4 separate regions of the Homo sapiens genome follow, and regions 2, 3 and 4 are each linked to region 1. Evidence: fine-mapped expression QTL. A gene starts in region 1. Each other region holds a variant in brackets. All regions are shown on one strand. Distances are between the middles of the regions.

Evidence for each region.
Region 2: its variant is fine-mapped to the expression of LINC02980 in whole blood (INTERVAL, PIP above 0.99).
Region 3: its variant is fine-mapped to the expression of LINC02980 in whole blood (TOPMed, PIP above 0.99).
Region 4: its variant is fine-mapped to the expression of LINC02980 in nucleus accumbens (GTEx, PIP 0.98).

What each region holds. Positions count from the first base shown.
Region 1 is chr6:25,991,242-25,993,928 of GRCh38, reverse strand. It overlaps LINC02980 (long intergenic non-protein coding RNA 2980), which reads right to left and starts at 1,262. Exons shown (of 3, transcript NR_186645.1): 1 at 1,011-1,262. RefSeq lists an enhancer at 944-1,153 and a silencer at 1,144-1,453.
Region 2 is chr6:26,018,416-26,021,102 of GRCh38, reverse strand. It overlaps H3C1 (H3 clustered histone 1), which reads right to left and starts at 652. Exons shown (of 1, transcript NM_003529.3): 1 at 145-652. The coding sequence starts at 613. The coding sequence ends at 203. RefSeq lists enhancers at 1-323, 324-1,140. The variant AAG/G (reference allele first, on the strand shown) is at 1,123.
Region 3 is chr6:26,014,832-26,017,518 of GRCh38, reverse strand. H1-1 (H1.1 linker histone, cluster member) reads left to right here. Exons shown (of 1, transcript NM_005325.4): 1 at 1-487. The coding sequence ends at 434. It also overlaps the pseudogene H3P26. Among named protein-coding and RNA genes, the nearest start is that of H1-1, 1.6 kb to the left of the region's middle. RefSeq lists an enhancer at 540-1,539. The variant G/A (reference allele first, on the strand shown) is at 1,020.
Region 4 is chr6:26,066,120-26,068,806 of GRCh38, reverse strand. No RefSeq gene overlaps it. Among named protein-coding and RNA genes, the nearest start is that of H1-2, 11 kb to the right of the region's middle. RefSeq lists an enhancer at 1,695-2,194. The variant G/A (reference allele first, on the strand shown) is at 1,250.

The DNA of each region.
Region 1 (2,687 bases):
ATAGAGCAGAAGTAGCCTTAAGAGTTGGTGGAGAAAGGATGGTCTATTCAATTACCTGGGCTGAGAAACTGGCTTTCATATGGAATAAAAATAAAATTATAGCTATACCCCATATCATACACAAAAGTTTCTACATCTAACAAAGACACAGATAGAAAATGTTTTAAAATTTTAGAAGAAAATAGTGCAGAATTTTAGTGCAGAATTTCTTAGACTAGATGCAAAAACAAAAATGATTAAAGTGGCCAGGCACGGTGGCTTATGCCTGTAATCTCAGCACTCTGGGAGGCCGAGGTAGGTGGATTAGTGGAGGTCATGATTTCGAGACCAGCCTGGACAACATAGTGAAACCCCATCTCTACTAAAATACAAAAATTGGTAGGGTGTGGTGGCTCACGCTTTTAATCCCAGCTACTTGGGAGTCTGAGGCAGGAGAATCACTTGAACCTGGGAGGCAGAGGTTGCAGTGAGGGGAGATGGCGCCACTGCACTCCAGCCTGAGCAACACAGCGAGACTCTGTCTCAAAAAAATCTAAAAATAAAAAGATTATTTTTAAAAGACTATTTTAAACAAAAAAAATCGTTTAAATGATATGACACACTACATCTAATATTTGGAAAAGTACTTCTTAATACTTTTAATAAAAAGAGGCGCTGAGAGCATACAACCTATCCTCAGAAGAGTGTTTGACCTCTAGGAGGGACGCAAGCGCGTTCTTCCTTCATTTTAACTGGTCATTTTCATTTATTTCAGGAACATCTGAAGTAAACACAGTCACACGTTAACCTTTAAAAATCTAGGAGGTGCGTACGCATAGTTCCATTACTTCAATTTTTGTACTTTTGCATTTTAAAATATCACAGGGAAGCTCGGTACAGCTTCAAGGCTAGGAGGGGTGGCTCTCTCTTAAGCCCTGTCCCCGCCAGCCCCAGACCTCTCGTCCCGCCCCCATTGCCCAGTCCCCACCCTCACTTCCCCATTTCCCCACTCCCGCGGTCTCTTAACGCACCTCGTTTTTCGTCCAGTGGACTCAGACCTGTAGTCTTCCACCAGGATCGGCTCCTTTCCCGGAGCTCTCGCTCTTAGAGGAAATTGAGAGAAGCATCAGCGGAGACCCATCTGTGGCTCTCCAGAGGGCGCGGCATTCAGACCCCAGATCCAGCTGTGAGAACGGACCCCAGGCTCACACCAGGCCTGCGGGAGGCGGCCCACCAGAGGCGCTAGAAAACAAGCCTCGCGGGGAGGCGCGCAGGGCGACTGCAAGCTGTAGGGGGCGCTGGCGCCCTCACAGGCCAGGGGCAGGGCCGGCGCTGCGGGCGGGGCTCCTGCGGCGTGAGGGGCGGCCCCAGGCCAGCAGCTGCGCCCTGGCTGGGAGCCGGGGAGCATTTGCTGCTCTGCTGGACCCTGAGTCTGGCGGCGGGCGGCCTCCTCTCCGCTCCCCGCCCGCCATCCCCCAACTCCCGATCTCTCTGCTGCGTCTGGCCTCAGGCTGAGACCCCAACGAATCATTCCCCGCATGGGAACATTTTATGATATAACTGAATTCAGTTTTATGTATAACTGAATTACGGATATGAGAATCTCAAATGAGGACGAATGGTTTTTACGCACAAAACATGAGACACAAATCTGTAAGAAATATAAAGTCGTGACCACGTCCTTTCAGAACTTTAACCTGTTTGCTGAAGTACGTCAGTAACAATGGCAGGGAAAGGGTATCTTAAATTTCACCACAGCCTCAAAGAGGCCATTTCGTGGATCCGCTGAGGCTTGGAGTCGGCCTTCTGACCACGAGTCCTGCGGCTATGAAAGAGGAAGCCGCGGTTCAGGGCGTCCTCGCGAGTCGTGCAGCCCGCCCTGCTCCAGCTGGGGACACCGGTGGTCACGGCGCTTTCCAGCTGCAGATCCAGGCGGCAGCCCAAGATTTGGTCCAGCCGCCAAGGGGTGGCTCGAGTGACTGACGGGCCTTGAACGCTCCCAGGACCCACATCTGGAGAGGGAGGTGGGGGTGGGGTGCTGAAGTCATTCTTGGGGCCCCTGGGGGCGGGCATGGACCTGGGTAAGGCCAGAGAAATTGACACCTCGTGACATCCCTGGAAGAGAAGTACGTTCAGTGTCACTCCAGAGCTGAAACCGCCTTCTGGCTGGTCCCTCCTCACCTACATACTTTTCTAATTTGTCTGGAGCAGGCCGGGCATCTGTATTATCTGGTTATTTAAATATCTGGTTATTTAAAAGCTCTCCATTAAATTCACATACACGAAAATAAAAATTAAAAAAAATTTTAAAAAAAAGAAACAAAAGCTCTCTAATGACCAAGTCCTACACGATAGTGAATAAATTTTTTTGTGTGGTCCCTAAAATTGAGTTCATGCCTTTTCTGAAGTAATAGACGCCCAGAGAAGGGATCGACTTACCCATCATGCCACAGAGATTAATTGGCCCCAGAATTCTTTAGCAGACCGTGTATATGAACGTCCTTTGCAATCATATAAATTAACTGGGAAAACCTCATTTAGTATGTTACATGCCTAGCGTTTTGTGCCTGAACACCTTACAAGAACCAGGGACTATTGCCCCAATATTATATTTCAGGAAAGGAAGGCCCAGACAAATGGTGTCACTGGTCCACTTTCACCCAGTTGGTAAATGAAACCAGAAATTATAGCTGTACCACAGAAAGGTG
Region 2 (2,687 bases), 27 kb before region 1:
TCTCAAAGTGCTTGAATTACAGGCGTGAGTCACCGCGACCGGCCGAAATCGATTGGTTTTGAAGCCTTCAGTAGCATTAAAACGAAAAGTGCTCCCAATGCATTCCCTTTTGTCTTAAATTGGTTTCTTACAGCTACTTTACTTGAAAAGGTGGTGGCTCTGAAAAGAGCCTTTGCTTGGACCGTCAGAGAGACCACAGTAATCACGCCCTCTCTCCGCGGATGCGGCGGGCGAGCTGGATGTCCTTGGGCATGATAGTGACGCGCTTGGCGTGGATGGCGCACAGGTTAGTGTCCTCAAATAGCCCTACCAAGTAGGCCTCGCACGCCTCCTGCAGAGCCATCACAGCGGAGCTCTGGAAACGCAGGTCTGTTTTAAAGTCCTGCGCAATCTCGCGCACCAGGCGCTGGAAAGGTAGTTTACGAATAAGCAGTTCAGTGGACTTCTGATAACGGCGGATCTCGCGCAGAGCCACGGTGCCCGGCCGGTAGCGGTGGGGCTTTTTCACGCCGCCGGTGGCCGGAGCGCTTTTGCGGGCTGCCTTAGTGGCCAACTGTTTGCGTGGCGCCTTGCCACCAGTAGACTTCCGAGCAGTTTGCTTAGTGCGAGCCATGACGGAAAAACAGCACAGCGGAACACCCAACACTAGCGCAAATACGCCCATGAGCTGCTCTATTTATAGTGTGTAAAGTGCAGTGATTGGATGATAGAAGACGCTAAATATGACGTTACACACTCTGATTGGTCTATCTTTAAGCCAGCAACAATCGTGCAGTTTCACCGGCTACTATATTCTATTCCAACTCTACAGATGATTATTTAAGTGGTATTTTATTACTACTATTATTTTATTTTACTTTTGCTTTGTTCCCCAAGCTGGTCTTAAACTTGGGCTCAAAGGATCTTCCCGCCTCAGCATCCAGAGTAGCTGGGATTACAGGGGAGCCCCACTGCGCCGGCTTGGACTTTAATTTTTTAAACTTGTCCTCTTCTACATCTGGTTTTCATAACCTGAAGGCTGTGTTTATTTTCCATAAAACAAGGCATTGATTCCAAAGGTATTATAATTCCCCAATTCCGTATAACCTTCAGCTCTTTAGGAAAAAAAAAAAAAAAAAAAAA[AAG/G]AGGGAATACTGCTCACCTCCTCTCCGGAAATGTACCCTTTACGGGAATTTCTGAAACCTTTCACAAGAATTGGATTCCTTTGTAATGCTTTAATTGACTTAGGAGTGTTATTGAAATCTACAAAGCATCTCAAACATAGTAGGATTACACTATTACTCAGAAACATTTTCTATGAGACGTCTTTCTCTTGATTATGCTCTTTGAATCCTAAACTTGCAGCGTTCTGCAGCTTTTGTTTTCTAAAGCCTAGGTGTACTCTGCCAGTCACAAAATGGCGTTTCTCCAGCACTGCCGCCAGGTACCACCAGCTGGGAGTTGTTCCTCTTGCGGAGCAGGAGGTGGACTTGGCCCAAGAGAAACTGGATAGTGGTTCGCAAGGAACATAATTTAGCATTGCCAAGAGCTAATGCAATCATTTTGAAAATCTCAAAACACTGAAAAGTGGATTGTGACCTTTTTAAATTCACAAGAGACAGGCCACATTCTATCTTTTGATTGGTTTAGGCTATTTTCTTGAACAGCCATTTAGAAAGCAGATCTATCATCCTTCATTTGCATGGAGCGTTCCCATTTTATTTGAAACCAGTTTAACCCAATAGAAAAAAGGGAGGCAGAACCCATTATTTAAAGTGGAAACTCCTGAATCAGATAATTAGGAGTATTTCCTTTTCAAAAGTTGCGTTTTTTCAGATACCTCGCTTATTACACTAAGAAAGGTTTATATCTTTCACAAAGGGTTTACTTACAAAAATCTTCCAATTTTGTATACCTGTGTTTCATAACTGACTAGCCGTCAAACCAAGATGTAGAGTTTCCAACCGTTATTTTCCAAATTTTTAGAAATTACGTGAAATATTTGAATGCATGCCTTCTCAATAAAATGGGACGTAGGAAGCACTGGTGCAGAAGATGGGTACAATACTTATCTGGGACCACTCCATTATTTGGTTGGCACGTTGTTTGAACAAAAAGGGGAAAAGCTCAGGTTACTTAGCATGGTTCGGACTTATTTGAAAACTACCACAGCAGGAGCGGAAATAAGACCGCATTACCTCACTCTCTGCTGTGCTGTGCTAGGGGGTTATCCAGAATAGGATTGTAGAAGTGGATGTCGATTTAATAGTTTTTTATTCTCCCATTAGCTGAGTCTCTGATTGGCAATGTGAGATCGTTTTAGCTTATTGATACTTTGAAATGCACTTAACAGCCACAAACAAGTTAAAGGGTTGTTACCATAAAATCTTATCCCCAGGGTGTGCTTGCATTTATCACCCGTGTTTGCTTTCACACTAAGTGGACTTAACTCCCCAGCAGAATGCCTGTCAGGGAACCGGTTTCGTGGACCCAGCATTTAACGCCTTTCGCAGGCTTGTGAGGCCCATAAATATTTGTTGAATAAAAGAATGAGTTGACCATGTCATGGTGCGCTGATTGCGTGTGCTGACATGGAACACAGGTTGTAAACCTTAATACCAATTTGGGGCATGTTGTATGGATGAAAAGGGCATTGGAAATTCCTGAAGTGCATCCCACATTGGACTGTGGAAATAAGTTGCAAGTGC
Region 3 (2,687 bases), 24 kb before region 1:
CAGGCTACGACGTGGAGAAGAACAACAGCCGCATTAAGCTGGGCATTAAGAGCCTGGTAAGCAAGGGAACGTTGGTGCAGACAAAGGGTACCGGAGCCTCGGGTTCCTTCAAGCTCAACAAGAAGGCGTCCTCCGTGGAAACCAAGCCCGGCGCCTCAAAGGTGGCTACAAAAACTAAGGCAACGGGTGCATCTAAAAAGCTCAAAAAGGCCACGGGGGCTAGCAAAAAGAGCGTCAAGACTCCGAAAAAGGCTAAAAAGCCTGCGGCAACAAGGAAATCCTCCAAGAATCCAAAAAAACCCAAAACTGTAAAGCCCAAGAAAGTAGCTAAAAGCCCTGCTAAAGCTAAGGCTGTAAAACCCAAGGCGGCCAAGGCTAGGGTGACGAAGCCAAAGACTGCCAAACCCAAGAAAGCGGCACCCAAGAAAAAGTAAATTCAGTTAGAAGTTTCTTCTAGTAACCCAACGGCTCTTTTAAGAGCCACCTACGCATTTCAGGAAAAGAGCTGTAGTACACAGATGAAATCCCCCAAGCAAATGCAACACGCCCTCAATTATATTAGAATCACTTGGAGAGTCGATAGAACTTTAACATAGCCTCATCTAGTAAGAATTTACTACTCAATCTATCAAAGATAGCAAGGTGAATTCAAATGCACCGAGTTAAAATCGAGTTTTAAAGTCACCTGGGTTTCGGTAGCCGGAAGTCCCGCGTCTCACGACTCCAAGCTAATTAGTCATAACCGTATTGAACCAAGGTTGAAGCCCAGTCCCAGGCTTGAGGCTTTTTATTATACAAGGTTAAAGTGGGGATATTGCGTTTTGGGGTCAATATTGCTAAAGTAGCATTTTCCGAAATTGGGTGGTCCTAAGAAATGCTTCTGGGATAGTTGGCAAAATATATGGCTTAACCACGCCCTCTCCACAGGAGTGGCTAGCGAGCTGTCTGTCCTTGGGAAGGACGGTGACCCTGCTGGCGTGGCTGGCGCCCACGTTGGCGTCCTCTGAAAGCCCCGCCAG[G/A]TAGGCCTAGCTCGCTTGCTTTCTGCAGCGCCATCATGACAAAGCTTTGAAACGCAAAATGCTTTCTTTGTGCAGCGCCTTACCATGGGTGCACTTACGGGCTGTCGACTTGGTTTAGGCCCTTGTCAGGACAAAGGAGCTTAGTTTGTTGGAGTTTTAGAGCTGCAACCCAAAATCCCTTGCTCGGTTTCTCTGTTTTTAGAAACGGAAGCGCCCTGATTGGATATTTGAAAATTACTGTGCTTAACTGGATCGTGTTTCATCAGTCGTGCAGGATTTTCAACCCTGGTGGAGCCCACACATTCAAAACTGAAGATCCTTTTCTCAGAACTGCCCCTTTAAGCTTTTGCAATTTTAATTCTGGGGGTCAGATTTTAATAATTGGACTTTTTTGTTTACATCTGACAAGAGTATATGATGAGCCAAGTTTACTCACTTTTACTTAGTGCAGTTCAATTCTAAAAGTTTATTTTTGCGTGTGTGCATATGAGTTAATAATCAGTTGTATTTTTCAAACGGTCTTTTTTCAATTGTTTTGCTTAGCTCCTTCCATCGTCTAAAGTCAGGGATACAGGCACATCACATCCCTGTTCCCCCTTCCTCAAACTAATATGTAGCTACCTAGGTTTATCCTTTAAAACAAAAATTCTCACCTATTTTTGTGAGAAATATACATGTTTTTCTTTGAACTAAGTATTTTACATACACCTATCTATATACATGCATACTTGTGGTTTTGTTTTTTTAAAAAAAAAAAAAAAAAAACACGTTATCTTTTGAGACTGGGTCTCAGTCTGTTGCCCAGACTGGACTGCAGTGGCATAATCACAGCACACTGTAACCTCCAACTCCTGGGCTCAGGCTATCCTGCAGCCTCAGCATCCGGAGTAGCTGGGATTGCATGCACGCACCACCAAGCCGGGCTTTTTGTTTTTATTTTTTGTGGAGACAGTCACACCATGTTGTCCAAGCTGGTCTAGAAATGGCCTCAAGTGATCATCGACCTCCCAAAGTGTTGGGATTACGGTCACTGTGCCTGGCCTTGTATGCATAATTGTTTTGTCTTTTGATTAGGGTTATTAATTTAAAAAACAAAGCCTGGACGCAGTGGCTCACATCTGTAATCCCAGCACTTTAGGAAGCCAGATGGGCAGATTACTTGAGCTCAGGAGTTCAAGACCAGCCTGGGCAACATGGTGAAATCCCATCTTGACAAAAAATACAAAAAATTAGCAAGGCCCAGTGGCACGCACTTATAGTCCCAGCTACTTGGGAGGCTGGGGTGGGAAGATGACTGGAACCTGGGAGGTAGAGGCTGCAGTGAGCAGAGATCGTGCCACTGCACTCAAGCCTAGGTGACAGAATGAGACCCAGTCTCAAAACAAAAATAATAAAAATTTTTTACAACGATGTTATATACACTTCTGCATGTTGCTTTTCTCTTAACCAAACTTTTCTAAAACCCTGTCATGAAAAAAGAAATCCTTCACATGGAATAGCATAAGTTATTCATCCATTTCTTATTGATAAGCATTGATGTTTCCAGTTACCACTGCTGAACATGGTGCAATTGAATAGAATTCCAGGGCTGAGATTGCTAGGTTTTAGGTTGTATTTTATTATTTTATTTATTTATTTATTTATTTAGACAGAGTCTTACTCTGTCAC
Region 4 (2,687 bases), 75 kb before region 1:
ACAATCACTTGAAATGCTTAGAATAGGAAATACGTATAAATTATTTAACATAAAATATTGTTACAAAACCTCTGGAGTGTCAGTTTCTCTGGCCAGACTTTATGCTGCAGCACCTTTGCCTGAGTTCTTGTCCTGCATCCAGGAAGAATTAGGTACAGAGGCAAGAGTCAAGAAGATTAGTTTTCCAATAGTTCAGCTCACCTAGTTAACTCCTGTTCACAATCTTCAAAGTTATCAGAAACCTGCAATTGAGGGTTATAATCCATTCTTTGCAGAGTTTCAAAACAAGACAACATTTGTCTATGAATGTTAAAATGTCCTAGGGTAGTCACAGTCAAAAACACAATTGACAAAGAAATTTAGTCACCTCTGTGATTTACAATAGCCTAACACAATAACTCTAATTATAACTGATGACACAAACTCAGATATCAGAACTCTAGAAATCCCCTATAATTTTGGAACACACATTCACAGTTTTCACTGAAATATGACCTGAAGATCAAATATCACCTTATTTCAACAATCCTATATAACTAAACGTGTCAAATGATCCTGTTTACCTCTCCTTTGGATACTCCAGGGGCCCTCTGTAGCATCCAAAAGTTAGGGGTTAGCAAAGACAATTTTGAAGCTGTAAAGGCTCAAAACACTTAATGAACCTCTAGTCATATCTGTTCTCTACTCACTAAATGCTAGTAGCACCTCTCAGTTGTGGCTAAGCTGGGAGGATCTCTTGAGCCTAGAAGTTTGGGGACGCAGTGAGCTATGATTATGCCACTGCACTCCAGCCTGGGCAACAATGCAAAATCCTGTCTCAAAAACAAAAACAAAAAACAAATTGCCTATGCTGTGGTTATCTCACAATTAATAAAAAGGAAAAAAAAAGTATGCAGTCTTTGTAGGTCCTTGGGGTTTGTTGGAACTCAGAAAACAATACCCCAAAATAAAGACCGCAGAAGCCAAAGTTTTTCTCTGATCTTCTCCTGCCCTCCTGTCTCTGAGTCCCATTCTCCCCGGAGTCTAGCCATAGAAATGAGAATTCCTCTTCCTCAAGTTAGGTCATAGAAATCAAAACACCTTTTCCCCAGAGCCCAGCCATAAAACCTAAAAATATTACTCTAACTTTCCCTCTGTTTTTCTGTGTAAAAACTGGCCATAAAGAAATTATCTGAACTACCTTATTTGATCATAGATCACCAGACCGCATTCCAGAGAGGATCCAGAAGGAAGGAATGCTGCACAGAGA[G/A]GCGAAGAAGAATCTAGACAGACAGGCCTTGCTGGGTTTCCCTACTCTGTTTATTAGCAATCCTATTTCTACACGGCGGCCCATACTTTGTTGAATCTAAAAAATAAAAATGGACAATTTCCCCTGTACATGTTAATACACATTAATAAATTGGATATAAATTGGATAATTTATTAATATACACATTAATAAATTGGATGCAGCCGGGTGCAATGGCTCACGCCTGTAATCCCAGCACTTTGGGAGCTGAGGCGGGCAGACCACGAGGTCAAGACCACCCTAGCCGAAATGGTGAAACCCCGTCTCTATTAAAAATACAAAAGTTAGCTGGGCGTGGTGGCACATGCCTGTAGTCCCAGCTACTGGGGAGGCTGAGGCAGGAGAATTGCTTGAACTCGGGAGGCGGAGGTTGCAGTGAGCCGAGATTGCGCCACTGCACTCCAGCCTGGTGACAGAGTGAGACTCCGTCTAAAAATAATAATAATAATAATAATAATAATAATAATAATAATAAATTGGATGCATTTTATCCTATTAATCTTCCTCTTGTCGGTGGTTTTCAGCGACTCTTCAGAGGCCAAAGAGTAAGTTTTCCCTTAGCCCCTACAGGTTCTTATGTTTAATTTGTTACTCTCATTTAAGACATAATTAAAGTGGCTTCTCCATGAAGATTATTTCTGCATCCATTATTTGGTAAGATTGGCCGTTTTCTCCTTTGATCTCTACTTCACACTGACCCACATAAAACATCACTGCCTGTTTTTTTGTTGTTGTTGTTTGGAGACGGAGTCTTGCTCTGTTGCCCAGGCTGGAGTGCAGTGGTGTGATCTCCGCTCACTGCAAGCTCCGCCTCCCGGATTCACGCCATTCTCCTGCCTCAGCCTCCTGAGCAGCTGGGACTACAGGCACCCACCACCAAGCCCGGCTAATTTTTGTATTTTTAGTAGATACGGGGTTTCACTTTGTTAACCAGGATGGTCTCGATCTCCTGACCTCGTGATCGGCCCGCCTCAGCCTCCCAAAGTGCTGGGATTACAGGAGTGAGCCACTGCGCCCGGCCCCGTTTTTTTTTTTGGTTTTTGCATGTCTTCTCCCTTTTACTGTAAACTATTTCCACTACCAGCGTAGTTATCATTTCTACTGCTTAATAATTGTTTTGGGGAAGTGAATGCATCAACCCACATGAATTTCTTGTCTATTTGACAATTTATTCTCTTTAGGAATAGTATTAACTCCTAAGGTCCTGGGAGCCAGTCTCTGTACTTGGCTGCTCCAGGGTCCTACTTCAGTTTCCCAGCTTCTCAGTACTGTCACTGTCAATTGTGGGTAATAATTATTTTTGTCCACCAAAAGACTCTGTATGTGAATGAGTTTTGAAATCTGCTGAGTAATACAGTGTCAACCCAGTTAATGATTTGCCGGGCGGCTTGATCAGGGG